Linked DNA regions of Homo sapiens: region 1 is linked to region 2. The links come from fine-mapping of genetic effects on gene expression. A gene starts in region 2. The other region holds a variant in brackets. All regions are shown on one strand. Distances are between the middles of the regions.

Region 1 (8,678 bases), 84 kb before region 2:
TGCTGCCTTGTGGGGAAGCATTGCCTTGCTTCCCCTTTGCCTTCTGCCATGATTGTAAGTTTCCTGAGGACTTCCCAACCATGCTGAATTGTGTGTCAATTAAGCCTCTTTCTTTTACAAATTACCCAGTCATGGGCAGTTCTTTACAGCCATGTGAAAATGGACTAATACAAAGAATAAGTAATTTTTAGGGGAGATGAATGGGCCCAAAGAAAAGACAATAGCCTGGGACAAAGGTCCTCTGAGCTCTGGGGAAGGTGGTGACAAGTTATGGGAAGGTGAGGGGACAGAACTGCAATGCAAATATTGTCTTAGTATGCAAATAAGGTCTCTCAGGCAATATGATAAGTTTGCTTGGGTGGGTGTAGTGACAACCTTTTGTTTCTTCTTCCTGATTTATCTTCCCTAGGCAATGAGATTTATTTATTTATTTATTTTTATTTTTATTTTTTTGAGATGCAGTTTCAGTCTGTCACCCATGCTGGAGTACAGTGGGATGATCTCGGCTCACTGCAACTTCCGCCTCCCGAGTTCAAGCCATTCTCATGCCTTAGGCTCCCGAGTAGCTGGGATTATAGACGCCCAACACCATGCCTGGTGAATTTTTGTATTATTAGTAGAGATGGCGTTTTGCCCTGTTGGCCAGGCTGGTCTTGAACTCCTGACCTCAAGTGATCCGCCCACCTCAGCCTTCCAAAATGCTGGGATTACAGGCATGAGCCACTGTGCCCCAGCTGGCAATGAGATTTTAAACAGTGGATTAAAGACAATTGTGTTTATTTTGAAAGAACTTCCCTCAATGAGATAAGGGACCTTCAGAGAGAGCCTGTCCCCACCCTTGTGGGGAGAAACAAGAGAAGGTCAGAGAGACACTGATTCTGAGGTCACTTCTAAGGCTTTCAATTTCCTTTAATTCAAAGTGCTCAGTATTCAAATAATACGCCATATTTTGGTGTATTATTTTCTGAGCCCCAACAGTTCTATAGGTATCTATTAGCTTTAGCTGGCTTATAGTATGGTGTAAGACTTCTATTTCCTTGGGAGTCTGAGGCGGGCAGATCATGAGGTCAAGAGTTCGAGACCAGCCTGGCCAAAATGGTGAAACCTCTTCTCTACTAAAAATACAAAAATTAGCCGGGAGTGGTGGCACACATGTGTAGTCCCAGCTACTCGGGAGGCTGAGACAGAAGAATTGCTTGAACCCGGGAGGCAGAGGTTGCAGCGAGCTGAGATCATGCCACTGCACTCCAGCCTGGGCGACAGAGCAATACTCTGTCTCAAAAAAAAAAAAAAAAGACTTCTATCTTTTTATTGATCTTCTACTTAGTTGTTCTCACTGTATTGAAAGCAGTTTGTTGAAGTCTCCAACTACTGCTATTGATTGTCTATTTGTCCCTTCAATTGTGTCAGTTTTGATTTGTGTATTTTGCTGCTCTATTTTTAGGTGTATATATATTTATAATATCCACTTATTTTATGCACTTGATCCTGAAAGGATTTAGGAGGTTACTGTATAGCAAGAAATCACAAATTAGAAGTAGATGAGAAAGAAAAAGCAAAACAAGAGTAGCAACATAAAATAGACTTTGTCTTCTTGTTCACTTTTGTTGCCATGTGAACAGGGCCTGTCCCATAATAGTTCTTCATAGAATTAAAATAACACCAAGAATAAGGTTAACACAAAAATGAATTTATACATTACAAGTGTACCGTAAACTTGGCATCCAATTAAAATGGAGACCTGATTGGTTATACAATTGATAGTGACCCTGAGCTAAATAAAACAAGAGATGATACCAAGAACAATAGAGAAATTCCTTCCAAGGGTTGTCACTAACATTCAATTATAAATATGCCAAACAAACTCCTCCATCCTAAACAGAATATATGCTTTAAGTTTGGGAATTTCCCCTTCCCAGGAGTGATGCTATAGTTAGTCCCCATGGGCTGCCACATCTGATTGTGCAAATTGTGTACTGTCCAACTCCAGGTTATCCATCACATTGCAGTCTATGCAAACAACACCCTCTCCCCAACCACACACTCTGCATTGGGTAATATACAACCTAGGCTCCTATAAGAGTGACTCCATAAAATCTTTAAGTGATTCCTCCTCTGACAAATGGCTTAGTGTTCACTGTATATTTAGGGATTGTAAAAGAACAGAATATGCTACCCCAAAATATACTTCTTTGGCATAAGGATTATTTTGAACCAATTATTTTAGGAAATAGCAGACATGGGAGAATCTCTGAAAACAGAGAAGTTTCCCATTTGAAAGGGAAATTTACATTTATAAAGGAAATCTCCATGTGTAGGGATGTCTTTCTCTGTACTAGGAAGAGAAAGATATTCTAAATCACAAGAAATTCTTATCAGTGGAGAAGGCACCAACTTATATCTGCATAACAAAGCTTACCCTTGTTTACTGTACATTTCCTGGTTGCCTTCTCATAATTTACCTCCACCACACAATTCTTTCACTGATTTAGCTGAAGATGGTATTTAAGCCTGAATTCTAAGCCACCTCTCTGAGAGTTACTCATTTCCCTGACTGCCCAGGTTTATATGAGATATACCTGTTAGTAAACTTCTTTTGTTTTTCTTCTTCTTCTTTTTTTTAAAAAAATATTTCTTTCTCTGTTTTTTGTTTTTTTTTTTTTTTAAGAGATGGAGTTTCGCTATGTTGCCTAGGCTGGTTTCAAATTGCTGGACTTAAGTGATTTACCCACCTTGGCTTTCCAAAGTGCTGAGATTACAGGAATGAGCCAAGATACACGTTAGTAAACTTCTGTTTGTTTTTTCTCTTGTTAATCTGTCTTTTGTTACAGGAGCCCCAGCAGATAACTTAGAAGGGTGGAAGGAAAATTATTTTTTCCTCCCTTACAAGGTGTTGTGGGTGGCCAAGAAATGAGGAACAGCGTAGTGTTCATCTACAAGGAAATGAAGTCTCTGAACCTCATCTTTGGACACAATGTTCCAACCAGTTGTCTTAACCAAGTGCCTTGAAAAGAGAACAAGGTGAGTAGAGAAGGTGCTTCACTTCTCCAAGCTCCCACACTGATTCGTAAGATAAGTCAAGGGGTTCTCACATTTCCTAGGACGGTAGTTTTCTCACTGTATTTAGAGAGTATCAGCAGAAACACGATTGCACACGGGAAATGCTAAAGCTAGGAGCTCTGCAGTGTGTCAGGGGAGACGCATATGTGTTAATTATGACGCAGAAGAGAA[G/A]TGACCCTCAGGGGCCCTTAGTGGAAGAAGCCGTGTTGGCTTGCACTCAGCAGCAGCTTGTGGGCATGCACGCTGGTTACTACAAGTCTTCAGGGAGCTCTGCTCAGGTGACTCAGCAGGCCTCAGGCAAAGTACAAGAGAATCTCTAGTTCTAAATAAGATTACACGAGGACCAGAAAATAATACCTGAGTTTTTGTTTTGTTTGTTTTGTTTTGTTTTTAGACAGAGTCTTGCTCTGTTGCCCAGGCTGGAAGTGCAGTGGCACGAGCTTGGCTCGCTGCAACCTCCGCCTCCCAGGTTCAAGCAATTCTCCTGCCTCAGCCTCCCTAGTAGCTGGGATTACAGGCGTGAGCCACCACGCCCAGCTGATTTTTGTATTTTTAGCAGAGACAGGTTTCATCATTTTGGCTAGGCTGGTCTCGAACTCCTGACCTCAGGTGATCCACCTGCCTTGGCCTCCCAAAGTGCTGGAATTAGAGGCGTGAGCCACCATGCCTGGCTGCTGAGTTTTTTTAAGTACAATAGAAATCCTGGCCCAGTTATTCATAACTTCTCCCTAACCTTATCCCCAAGTTGGGACAGTCCTTTGTCACATCTTCAGTAACTAAAACCCACAGAGAGCAGCAAAGACAAGCCCCTCTCCGTGTCAACTTCCTCCCCTGGAGTGAGCACTGTTATGAAAGAATCGGGGTACAAGGTGGCTGGGCGCAGTGGCTCACACCTGTAATCCCACCACTTTGGGAGGCCGAGGTGGGCGGATCACCTGAGGTCAGGTGTTCGAGACCAGCCTGACTAACATGGAGAAACCCCGTCTCTACTAAAAATACAAAATTAGCCAGGCATGGTGGCCCATGCCGGTAATCCCAGCTACTTGGGAGGCTGAGGCAGGAGAATTGCTTGAACCCAGGAGGCGGAGGTTGCAGTGAGCCAAGATCGAGCCATTGCACTCCAGCCTGGGCAACAAGAGCAAAACGCCATCTCAAAAAAAAAAAAAAAGAATCGGGGTACAAGGTAAGACACCACCTGGCAATGAGGCCTTTCCTGAGTTCCTTATGGCAAAACAGGCCACAAAACCTTGGATTTCCATTTCTAGCAGAATAATAGGCCACCTGCTTCATGGCTGAGGGAGGCTGTGTTTTTGGCTCTCGACACACCAAACACCCTCTTGCCTTTACCTGGTGAGCCAGTATCACTTCATCAGCAAGCATGGTCAGATTAGTTTATAGCTGCTCCAGAACACCAGGTTACATTCTCCTTGATGTATTTCACCATAAAAAGTTGTAAGGCACATTTTTTATTGTTCAATGCCCTAACAAGGGGCCTCTGACGTCATGAGTCCCAAGAATGCTGTTTGAATAACACATGACTTGAGCAGTTACTTTAAGTGAGGGACTGTGCCGAACAATTTTATATTTATCATCTTTTTTTATTAAAATAAACACATGAGGTAGTGTCTACTTCTATCTCTGTTCTATGAGTGAAAGAACAGGTCATATGGAGGTTATTTTGTGTTTGTTATTATTATGTTTTATTATTTTTATTTTTTGAGATGGAATCTCACTCTGTCACCCAGGCTGGAGGGCAGTGGCACAATCTTGGCTCACTGCAACCTCCACCTCTTGGGTTCAAGTGATTCTCCTGCCTCAGCCTCCTGAGTAGCTAGGATTACAGGTGTCCACCAGCACACCCAGCTAATTTTTGTAGTTTTAGTAGAGATGGGGTTTCACTATGTTGGCCAAGATGGTCTCGAACTCCTGACCTCAGGTGATCCACCCACCTTGGCCTCCCAAAGTGCACGGATTACTCACCACGCCTGGCCTGTGTGTGTGTTGTTAGAAGATTAGGGCTAAGAGGACTTTATTTGGTTTGAGTCTTCATTTTACAGATGAGGAAACTGAGCTCAAAGGAGTTAAGTCACATGCCCATAATCACGCACCCAGGAAGTGGTTTTAGGGTGGCACACATCATCCAGCTCTCTGTGAGTCTGCGGCCTAGCCTTTCATGATTTGAGGGTTTGTGCCACCCCCAAGTATTCTGTCATCCTGCAACCAAACTATGCTAAAAGGCGGGGCGGGCAACACACTGCATCAGATTGAAGTCAAACTTCGTGCCTCAGAACACACAGAGTCCCTCTAGCCCTTAACAACTTTCTTTTCAGGAAACCTGCCAAGTGCTTGGTTACCTTTTGAGTTCTTCCTGGGTGTCAGGGAACACATCTAAAAATAGATCTGTCCCCAGCTCTCCCAGAAGAGGCTTGTAACTTAAAAATGTCACTCCCTCCTCCCTTCCAAAACACAGACTTCACTGTTCCTTCCTTCCAACCCAGCAGCTGCCTAAGAATATACCTTCCTCTTACCTGAAGACTAGACTTCCTTCTTCAGGAAGGGACAATAGTGTCTCTTGCCAGGAAGGAAAGACCTTTCATATCAGCTTTGACAAAAATTGCTTTCTCTAAAGCAGAATGACTTCAGGGAAAAGGATGTGGGTCTTGTCCTGGTCTTTCACCTCCTAAAGATCGGCAAAATGGGACAATGTATATAAATGTGTTTTATAAATTGCAGATACCAGGAACTATCATGTGTCTCTGCATGTGTTCCCTGATTCTTCAAAATTGCAGTGGGTGGAAGGGAGACTTCTCTAGTGATACCTCTGGTGACACAGATTTTCCGGCCACAGAAACTCGGGGAAGTTTTTCCTGGTGTGGGCTTTCCGTGGGTAACTCCTTGTGTGCTGAGATGACATTAGAATGATTGCAGAGAGCAGGCCTGAAGCTGGGCTGGGCTCACACCAGCTAAAATTGAGTTTGAAGCAAGCCAGCAGAATTGAGGAGACAAAGAAAAAGAGCCTGTTCACCCATGGGAGTCTCTCCCAGTTGATTCTGTACCTTGTTAACCTGGAGTTGGTCTCAACACTAAGAAAAGACGTGTTTGCTAGCTTCTCGCCAGTACCATGCAATGCTTGAGCTCCACTGAACACTTTGTCATGTTAGAAGTGTTTCAGTTATCTTTATTTTATTCATGTATTCACTCCTTCAATAAATAGATATTTAATTCTTACTCCATTGGCAGCTTTCTCTGTTTAAAAGACTCCATTTGCTGTCCACATATAGTGAATATAGTTTGAAGGTAAACAATTGTTTGAATACAAAAAATAAAGATGGGCCCATTTCTATTGTGCTCACTCTCTGCCACCCTCCTTTCCCCCAACCATAAACTAGAGGTCACTTTGGTGATAGTTTCTGTTCCTGGGAATCACTGTGCTCCTGAAAAGCACTATTTTTAGAAGGCCAGAGTACTCTTTTTTTTTTTTTTTTTTTTTTGAGACAGAGTCTCACTCCCATGGTCGAGGCTGGAGTGAGTAGTGAGACACGGCTCACTGCAGCCCCGACTTTCCTGGGCTCATCAGGTGATCCTTCCACCTCAGCCTGCTGAGTAGCTGGGACTACAGGTGCACACCACCATGGCCGATTAATTTTTTGCATTTTTAGTAGAGATGGGGTTTTGCCAAGTTGCCCAGGCTGGTCTCAAACTCCTGGGCTCAAATCATCTGCCCACCTCAGCCTCCCAAAGTGCTGTTATTACAGGCATGAGCCACTGTACCCGGCCTCCTTATATATAAATTTTTTTTGTCCATCTTTGATTATTTCCTTAAAATGGATATCTATAAATGAAATTACTGTTTTTCAGATATAGTACTTTTTTAGATTCTTGATCTACATTGCTAAAGTGCTCTCCAGGGAGATTGTACTGATTAATATTCCCACCAGCAGGGCACACCAGTACTCATTTTTCCACACTCTTACCAACATTGGTTATTGGCAATTTTAAAAAAGTCTTTGCTAATCTGATCGAGTGTGGTGGCTAATGCCTATAATCCCAGCATTTTGGGAGGCCAAGGTGGGAGGATTATTTGAGCTCAGGAGTTTGTGATGAGCCAGGACAACACAGACCCTGTCTCTATTTTAAAGAAAAGAAAGGGGCCGGGTGTAGTGGCTCATGCCTGTAATCCTAGCACTTTGGGAGGCCGAGGAGGGTGGATCACGAAGTCAGGAGATTGAGACCATCCTGGCTAACACAGTGAAACCCGTGTTTTCTACTGAAAATATTTAAAAAATTAGCCAGGCGTGGTGGCGGGCGCCTGTAGTTCCAGCTACTCAGGAGGTTGAGGCAGGAGAATCCCTTTCACCCAGGAGGCAGAGCTTGCAGTGAGCTGAGATCACGCCACTGCACTCTAGCCTGGGTGACAGAGCAAGACTCCGTCTCAAAAAAAATTTAAAAAAAAGAGAAAAAGAAAAGAGAGAAAAATCTTTGCTAATCCAATGCACACGCCTATTTATATCTTTTTATAATTAGTCTTTGATCTATAAGCATTCTCTATATATTAGGAATATTACCCTTTGTTTATTGCAAATATTTTTCACAGCTTATCATTTGTCTTTGAGTCTACTCGGCAGCATTATTTGCCATATTGAAGTTCTTTCGCTTTTTTTTTTTTTTCTTTCTGAGACAAAGTCTCACTCTGTCGCCCAGGCTAGAGTGCAGTGGCACAATCTCAGCTCACTGCAACCTCCACCTCCTGGGTTCAAGCAATTCACCTGCCTCAGCCTCCCAAGTAGCTGGGATTACAGGCATGTGCCACAATGCCTGGCTGATTTTTGTATTTTTAATAAAGACACGGTTTCACCATGTTGGCCAGGCTGGTCTCGAAATCCTGACCTCAAGTGATCCACCCGCCTCAGCCTTCCAAAGTGCTTGAATAACAGGCATGAGCCACCGCACCTGGGAACATTTTTAAAATGTAGTCAAATGTATCCCTCCTTTTTTTTTTTTTTTTTTTCTTTTTTAGGCTTAGGAAGGTCTTCACCCCCAAAATCACAAAAATACTTAGCTCTATTTTCCTTAGTGTTTTTATGGTTTCTTTTTTACACGGACATATCTGATCAAGTAATTTATTTAGGGGTAAGGAAGCTAGTAATCCAGATTTTTTTTTTTTAATGGTTAGCTGGATTCCATACCATTTGTTAAATGACCATTTTAAAAGTCTCCTTTATTTCTGGAATCCCACCTTTTTTCTTTTCTTTCTTTCCTTTTTTTTTTTTTTTTTTTTTTTTTTTTTGAGAAGAAGTCTTGCTTTGTTGCCCAGGCTGGAGTACAGTGACACAATCTCAGCTCACTGCAACCTCTGCCTTCCAGGTTCAAGCGATTCTCCTGCCTCAGCACCCCCACCCCCTCCCAGTAGCTGGGACTACAGGCGCGTGCCACCATGCCCGGCTAATTTTTGTATTTTTAGTAGCAACGCGGTTTCATCATGTTGCCTAGGCTGGTCTCAAACTTCTGACCTCAAGTGATACACCCACCTCAGCCTCCCAAAGTGCTGAGATTACAGGCGTGAGCCACTGTGCTTGGCCCCCCACTTCTTTTTCACTCACCTCTCCATATGTTTATTA
Region 2 (8,678 bases):
GCCAAATGGGGCAGGGGGTTTTGTTTGAGACAGAGTCTTGCTCTGTCACCCAGGCTGCAGTGCAGTGGTGCGATCTCAGCTTACTGCAACCTTCACCTCCCAGGTTCAAGCGATTCTCACGCGTCAGCCTCCTGAGTAGCTAGGATTACAGGCACGTGCCACCACACCCGGGTAATTTTTGTATTTTTAGTGGAGACAGGGTTTTACCATGTTGGCCAGGCTGGTCTTAAACTCCTGGGTTCAAGTGATCTGCCCGCCTCTGCCTCCCAAAGTGTTGGGATTACAGGTGTGACCCACCACTCCTGGCCAGATCACATCTTAATAACAAGTTAGTGTGTGTCTGTGGCAGATTGTATTTTTTAAACATGGCCATACTTGTACATGTATCCCGTCCAACATGCTCTTCTTATAATATTACTGAACTTCTTACACAGAGAGATGGGGGTCTATGTTTTCTCTTTTTAAATCTGGATAGGGGCTTGTGATTTCTCCAACCCACAGAGCTCAGCAGAAGTGATGCTATATGACTTCTGAGACTAGGTCAGAAGAAGGATACAGCCTTAGCCCATCTTTGTCTCTTGATACGCTTGCCCTTGGAACCCACCGCTATGTTGTGAGGAAGCCCAGGCAACAAGGAGAGCCATGTGTGAGTGTTCCACTGACAGTGAGCACCTGTTGTCAAGACATGTGAGTCAATGAGCTTTCATACGATTCCAGCCCCAGAATTTGAGTCTTTCAGTTGAGGGGCAAGATATCATCGCCACTGTATCCTGTCTGAATTTCTAGCCCACAGAAACTGTGAGAAATAAGTCATTATTGTTGTTTTAAGCCACTAAGTTTTGGGGTAATCTGTTACACAGCAATAGATAACTAATAAAATATCCTTCCAGAATTTCCTCTAACTAGCTTCAGGGGAAAATGATATTTAATTATGTATTCACTCATTCACTCACTCAACCACGAAACCCAAAAGGGTATATTTGGCTTCAGACATGCTATTCTAGGGGGCTCAAATGATGTCATCAGAGTTCTGTGTCTCTCTTCTATTTGTTGTACCTTTCTGTAGCTCTAAGCTTTCCTCTGTTTTACGGCTCAAGATCTCAGGAGAAGTGTATTTTCCCCCAGTAGTGGCATAAACCCTAAGGAAGATCTGAATCACCTGCTCTAGCAGTGAGTCATGTTTTCAATTTCAAGTCACAGGAAATTCTCCTAACAATGATTTAAAGTTTAAGCCATAAGGACATTTACCATTTACTTAGAAGAAGTCCAGAAGTAGGAGGTCCCAGCACTAGTCAGATATCAAGGACATAAGTGTTTTCCCTCCTCCACTCTATCCTTATGCTTGGTGCCTCACAGTTACAACGTGGCCTCCCCAGCTTCAGTCATCACAACTGCCTTCAAGGCAGGAAGGAAAGGGAAGGAACCAGAAACCGCCAGTTTGTTTCTCAAGCACAGCACTTTTCTCAGGAAGTAAAATATCTAACCAGAAGCCATCCTCCTCCCTCATTGGGCAGAATGAAGTTACTTGGCCACCCCGTAGCTGTGGGAGAAGCTGTGAGAGTCGTTGACTTTCCAGTTTCTCCAGTGGGAAGCAGCAAGGGAGAAGGAGTCTCTGAATGGCTGCTGGGTTAGTGTCTTCCATGCCTGCCTGGCCTTGAACTAATCATGGCCAGAGCCATGGAGTCTCTAATTGGTTTGCTCCTAAGTCAAAGGGTAGGGCCAGCACCACACAAACTCTATGAATTGAGCAGAATTTGGGAGGTAACATCTGGTCAGGTTGTTTGCCCAAAGCAAGGGTGCATTAGAAGGTATAAAAATATCTGACCATACAAGAGTTGCAGAGTGTTCCATTGCATGGATAAACTCACAATTCTTTTAATTTGGCAACTTTAGTTCCAAGACAAGAGGATGGGAGGATAGGTGTGGGTAATAGTTTAAACACAGATGTGGAGTAGGAGGAGTACAGGGAGTCAGGAGGTTAGGGCTAGAGAGCATTTCAGTATGGTTAGAGAGTGGGCTGTAAGGAGGGTTAGGAGGAAATAAGGGGTAAGTAATAACAGCTGGCTGTGAATGCCATGCTATGCTAATATTTCATTTAATAGTCACAACAGCCACACGAGGGCAGTATTACTTAATTTCCACTCAATTCTTATGTTTCAGGTAAGAAAACTGAGACCTGGAGAAGTTGAGTCATTTGCTTGAATTACTCACTAAATAACCAGAAATTAGCCAGACCAGAATTGAAATGCAGGTCTTTCCGATTAGTCCCCACGCTGATCCAAGAGCCTCCAGGCTTCGCAGAGACCCTGCACTGGTTCCCTGCAGAAGGGGTAACTCAGGGGAAATGGGCTTAGTCACCAGAAGTCAGTCACTCTCCTCCTGGAAAGGTCTGGATGCAGATGCTGCAGACCTGGCCCATGTTATCAGACGTGATCGGAGATTGGAGTTGGAGCTTCATTGTGAAACATCTGCAGTCCTCAAGCTGAGACAACATTTCTGGCTGGGGGCGGTGGCTCATGCCTGTAATCCCAGCACTTTAGGAGGCCAAGGCGGGCAGATCACCTGAGGTCAGGAGTTCACGACTAGCCTGGCCAGCATGGTGAAACCCCATCTCTATTAAAAGTACAAAAATTAGCTGGGCATGGTGGTGGGCATCTGTAATCCCAGCTACCCGGGAGGCTGAGGCAGGAGAACTGCTTGAACCCGGGAGGCGGAGGTTGCAGTGAGCAGAGATCACACCACTGTACTCCAGCCTGGGCAACAGAGCGAGACTCCATCTCAAAAAAAAAAAAAAAAAGATTTCTGACTGAATTTAAAAATAAACAAAAACTACACCAACACCGAGCCATTCACAGCCTCTCAGGATTTGGAAAACAAAACAAAACAAAACAAAATAACACTGAGGCAAAGAGCAAGTCCCCCACACTGTAAAGGTATCAGCTCCACCATCTGGTCTCATCAGGGCCTCACCAGATGAAGCCTACCCCTAGCAAGCTGGTCTGGAGCTGCAGTTGGGCCCAAGGGCTGGGTGAGCGCCTGGGGCTGTCCACAGTGAGCAGATTCAGCAGAATTGCAGAACGTGGCCACCCGGCTGACTGAGGAAGGCCCTGTCCCGTGGGCATAAAGCCAGGATTCCTTTGGCCTTTTGCTGCTGGAGGAAAACTAGGCTGATTCAGAAGGTCTCACCACTGCTCCCTAGCACTGACTAAAGTCCGGGATGTCAGACTATGAGGTCATATATCACAAGTCTCTGTACGCCTTTGATCCCCAGTTTCCACATCAATAAAATGGCGGTAATCATATCTGACGATTGGGCGGGATTCTATGAAATAATGCGCACAAAGCTCTGGCAAAACCCTATGTAATGGAAGATGTTACTGATGACCAGCACTCAAGTCCTTCCTCCAGCCTCCGCATGGAAAGTTCCCAAGTGTCCCTAGAAGTCTGGAACACTCTAATGTTGACTGGAAAGAATAAGATGGATCTCTTTTTCTGATATGGAAGCGTCCCAAATCCAGTCATACCAGCTGGGAGGCAGTGCCCGCTAGCGGTAAAAAGCATGGATTTTGGATTTGGACAGATCCCCCTGAATTGAAGGCACAAGGGAAACCACTTGTGCCTCTGGCCAAGTTAATTTTTCTCTCCAAGCGTCAGTTTCTCCACCTGTTAAAAAGTAACGGCAAACCTACCTCACTGGAGCTTAATAAGGATTAAGTGAAATAATGCAGGTCAAATATCCGAGCCTTGATATATATAAGCCTCATGTGTATGTGTTCCCATTTATGTAAAATAACAGTGTAAGCATATTCAAAGAAAGCAATTCAGAATGTACTCTTAAACTAAGCAATGGTTATCTTGGTGTGGGGAGTTGGGGAAACCAGGGGCCTGCCTTTTTCTCTATTATATAATGCTGCAAAGTTTGATCTTTAAAAAAGGACATTAAAAAGCCCAATTGTACTTTAAACAACACAAGTTTTAATACTTGGGTAAATAAATGGCATCTAAACAAAGAAAGAAACTGAAGGCAGAGCCAGGCCCAACCCTAGGAGACTGAGGAAGCGATTCTGCTTTGCCTGCCCCCAGCTCAACCCCTGCACTAAAACCCCCCGGCCCCAGCCCCAAGGTCCAGGGGGTTGTATTCCTGGGGGCGACCCGGCGCCCCTCAAGTCTCCCTCCTCTTGCACACACACACACACAAACCAGACTCGAATCCCCGCCTCCCAAGGGAAAGTGTTTTTTAAGGTCTGTTCCAGGGCCTGCCGGGGCCAGGGACCGAGGTGGGACTGAGTGGCCGGAACTCCTCCACCTGGGAGAGTCGGTCCGGGTAGCTGCGGCCAAGCTGAGTCAGCCCGGCGGGCGGCGCACGCGGCGCCGCGTGACCCGCAGCCACGTGACCCGCGCGGGGCCGGGCCGCCGGCGCAGTCGCTGCAGCCGCCGCGGGAGGCGTCCGTGTAAGTGGGTAGCAGGGCTGGCGGGGACCTTCCTCGCGGGCCGGAGCGCGGAGCGCTGCCCCAGCCCTACGGCACTCGGGGTCGGGACCCCGGGGAGCCGCCCTCACACATTTTCCAGGAGGGATCGGAGGGGCGATGGGGTGGTAATGGGGGTGGGGGACACGCTGTACCCCACCGACGACCGCGCGGGCCACCTTCGCCTCTTTCCTTCACACTCCCACTAACCGCAGTGCTGGGGGAACAAAATGTCCTCCTTCTGGAGCGATTACCTTTTCCCTTTTGTGCTTTGGGGGAAACTGAAGACCCAGAGGGGTTCGCAAAGCAAGGTGGGCCAGTAGGAAGACCCCTCCGCTAGTCCAGAGAGAGCACACAGCTCCCCAGGCAGAGCTCATTGCCCCACCTGCTCTAGTGGCCCAGCATGATCCCATGACCTCTCTACTTCTGGAGGAAGAGTCTTGGGGTAGACGGCGGGGAGGGGGTAGGGTATCCCGTTCCGGTAGGGGCAGGGATGAGGGAGGCGGGGCTGAGCCGAGCATCTATCTGGATGGTAACAGCCAACGTAGAAAATACTAAGTTGTTTACATGCATTCTCTCATTTCATATTACCCGTCGTGAAGTCTGTGAAGTAGGTACTATTGTCCCAATTTTTACATAGGAGGAAACGGCTCAGAGAGAACTTAGGTCCTTTGACCGAGGTCCTGCAGGTGGTAAGTGAAGGAGCTGAGATTAGAACCCAGATCTGCCCCCAGTGGCGCCTCCTCGTGGTCTGTGGGTGGTGGAGACGACTGGCCTAGCCTCTTAGCTCCTCTGTGAATAGAAAGGCCTTTTTCCTGGCTCAGACAGCTTGGGAAGGGGATTGTTGCTGGGTAAGAGAAGCTTCTCCCACCACCTCCATCTCTTTCTCTGCCCCTTACCATTGATTCCTTTCTGTCATCCCCTCTCCCCCACTGCAGGACAAGATGAAGCTCATCATCCTGGAGCACTATTCTCAGGCGAGCGAGTGGGCGGCTAAATACATCAGGAACCGCATCATCCAGTTTAACCCAGGGCCAGAGAAGTACTTCACCCTGGGGCTCCCCACTGGTGCGTTCTTGGATGGAGAGGGTGCCGTGGATAAGGGTGGAGAGAGTAGGCAACAGGGGCCAGGTACACCGGCTCACTCAGCCAAGGGACTTCACGGGGGCTCTGGGGTACTGGTGCTGAGAGAGCACCTTCCTGCCCCTTCCACATACAAAGGACCCAGCTTCCCTTATGGGTTGGTTTAGTCGCTGCCTGTCCCTGCAGAATCCTGGAGCAGAAGGGATCTTGGTTGGCAGGAAGAATTTGATTTTTAGGCTACATCCTAAGTCAGCCCTGTCCACCAGGGTTTCTTAACAGAATTAAGTCCTGATACCCTAAGGCATTCATTTTATGTAATGAATTAATTTCTCTTCTCTGCATCTAGAGGGGTACCAGCTAAGTACCATCCTTGGGAGAATTGAAAAGATAGTCACTTAGGTAATTTTCTGTAAGGCTTAATTAAACACAGGACCTAAATAAAAAACAGTTCTAATTTCTTTTGGAAAAAATCAAAATGTTGCTTTTTCAGAAAGATATTTTGACCCCAGCTCCTCAAGACAAATGTCCTGATTATTTCTTTCAGAGATGGATGGGTTTGCCCTAGTGGCCCTACCTGACCCATCCATTAGCGTGTCTATGTGTGTGTGTGTGTGTTGGAGGGGTCTTCAAACTTGTTCTTTTTCCTTTTTTTTTTTTTTTTTGGTCTTCCTTGCAGTCCAGACTTTTTCTGTAAATGGCCAGTAGTAAATATGTTAGACTTCACTAGCCATATAGTCTCTGTTGCAACAACTTAACCCTTCTGTTGTTTGAAAGCAGCTATAATTAGCCTGGCATGGTGGCGCTCACCTGTAGTCCCAGCTTCTTGGGAGGCTGAGGTAGGTGGATTGCTTGAGCCAGTAGATTGAGGCTGCAGTGAGCCATGATTGTGTCACTGTACTCCAGTCTGGGTGACAGTGAGACCCTGTCTCAAAAAAAGAAAAGACAATATATAAGTGAATGAGTATGGTTGTATGCCAATAAAACTGTATGGACACTGAAGTTTGAACTTATATAATTTTCACATGTCACAAAATATTATTCTTCTTTAATTAAAAAAAAAACTATTTAAAAATGTAAAAACCAGGCCAGGCATGGTGGCTCATATCTGTAATTTCAGCACTTTGGGAGGCTGAGGTAGGCAGATTGCTGGAGCCCAGGAGTTTGAGATTAGCCTGGGCAACATGGCAAAACCCCATCTCTACAAAAAATAGAAAAATTAGCTAGGCATGGTGGCACATGCCTGTAGTCCCAGCTACTGAGGAGGCTACGGTGTGAGGTGTGAGTATTGCTTGGGCCAGGAGGTCGAGGCAGTGAACCATGATTGTGCAATTGCACTCCAGCCTAGGTGACAGAGCAAGATTCTGTCTCAAAAAAAAAAAAAAAAAGAAAGAAAAGAAAACCATTCTTAACTCATAAGCTGTATAAAAACAGGCCACAGGGCCGGGTGTGGTGGCTCACGCCTGTAATCCCAGCACTTTGGGAGGCTGAGGTGGGTCGATCATTTGAAGTCAGGAATTTGAGACCAGCCTGGCCAACATGGTGAAACCCTGCCTCTACTAAAAATATAAAAATTAGCTGGGCATGGTGGCGGGCACCTATAATCCCAGCTACTCAGGAGGCTGAGGCAGGAGAATCAATTGAACCCAGCAGATAGAGGTTACAGTGAGCTGAGATTGTGCCACTGCACTCCAGCTTGGGTGACAGCGATACTCTGTCTAAAAAAATAAAAAATAAAGGCCGCAGGCCAAATTTGGCCTGTGGACCAAAGTTTGCTGAGTTCTGCACTAGAGGTTTGTGGGAGTAGTATCCACCTGTGCCTGTGAAACTACCAATGTCTCAGGCCCTCGGAGGCTGTGCTAACATCCTGTCTCCTAACTGTGGAGAGACCCAACCTCTGTATGGGTCAGAGTCTGGCCTTCTGAAACCATTCCCTCGTTCCCATCATTGCAGAGTCAGATCCAAGCTCTTCAGAGTGGCATTCAAGGCCCTCCAAAACCTGGCCTCTCCCTGCCTGTCCTGCTTGAACCAACAGGACAGCGTTTCCACACGGGTTCCTTGGAACATTGCTTCTGTTAGATGTAGCACCTGTCAGGGTTCTGAGTGGAAACCACAGAAACCAACTCCAGCTAAATTAAGCAGAAAAGGAGTTTATTGGCTAGATACTGGGAAGTTCAGAGAATTCATGGGAAGGCTAGAAGTTTGGAAAATGGCAGGAGAGAGGAAGCTATGTGGCTCAGGCATAGCTAAGGCCTTGTCACACGGACCAACTAATTATTTTGGGTGGGCTGCGGGGAGCTGCCATTCACTCAGCAGGTATTTATTGAGTACCCTCTGTATGCAAAGCTGTTCTAGCCTCTAAGGATACAGCAATGAACAAAAAGGATATGAACTTCTGCCTTCTGAGGCTTAAATTATAATGGGAGAGACATAATAATTAGCAAAATATAGAGTATGTTAGATGGTGATAAGAGGAAAGGAGAAACATGAAGCAGGAAAGGATAGGGAGTGTGTCGGCAGGGGTGGGGCTGTGCAGTGTTGGATATGGTGGCAGGGAGGGTCTCATAGCCAGGGGCCAGGTTCTGTGGAGCCTTAGAATAACTGGTGTTGCTGAGGGTGAAATGAGAAGCTATTGGTGGGTTTTGAAAAGAGGGGTGACATGACGTAATCTCGATGGGTTTTTTTTCTTTCATTTTTTTAGTTTGCAAAATTTCAAATATTCAAAAAAGAGGAAAAAAACAGGTCAATACCATTCACCTAAATTCACCAATTGTTACCATTTTGCCACATTTGCTTTTACCTTTCTCTGGCTCTTGTTCTTTATCTACACACACACACACTTTTTTTTTCTGAACCACATGAAAATAAGTTCCAGACATCCTGACACTTATCTCTAAATCCTTCAGCACATATCTCCTGAGAATAAGGACATTCTCCTACACAACCATGATACCATCATACCTAAGAAAATGAAAAATCATGCCATCATCTAATATGCAAACTGTGTTCACAATTTTTTCTCAATTGTCCACATTTATCTTTTATAGGTTGGTTTTTAAAAAATTAATTCAGTGTCCAGTCAGGGTTCATGCATCTTTAGTCTTTTAATATACAGTGTCCTCCTACCTTTTA

The links.
Region 1: its variant is fine-mapped to the expression of GNPDA1 in whole blood (INTERVAL, PIP 0.95).

The regions. Positions count from the first base shown.
Region 1 is chr5:142,092,462-142,101,139 of GRCh38, reverse strand. It overlaps LOC105378204 (a long non-coding RNA gene), which reads left to right. Exons shown (of 3, transcript XR_944368.3): 2 at 2,832-3,021. Among named protein-coding and RNA genes, the nearest start is that of NDFIP1, 12 kb to the left of the region's middle. The variant G/A (reference allele first, on the strand shown) is at 3,232.
Region 2 is chr5:142,008,768-142,017,445 of GRCh38, reverse strand. GNPDA1 (glucosamine-6-phosphate deaminase 1) reads left to right here and starts at 4,419. Exons shown (of 7, transcript NM_005471.5): 1 at 4,419-4,451; 2 at 5,405-5,534. The coding sequence starts at 5,411. RefSeq lists a cis regulatory region at 2,880-3,152 and silencers at 4,294-4,563, 5,235-5,294.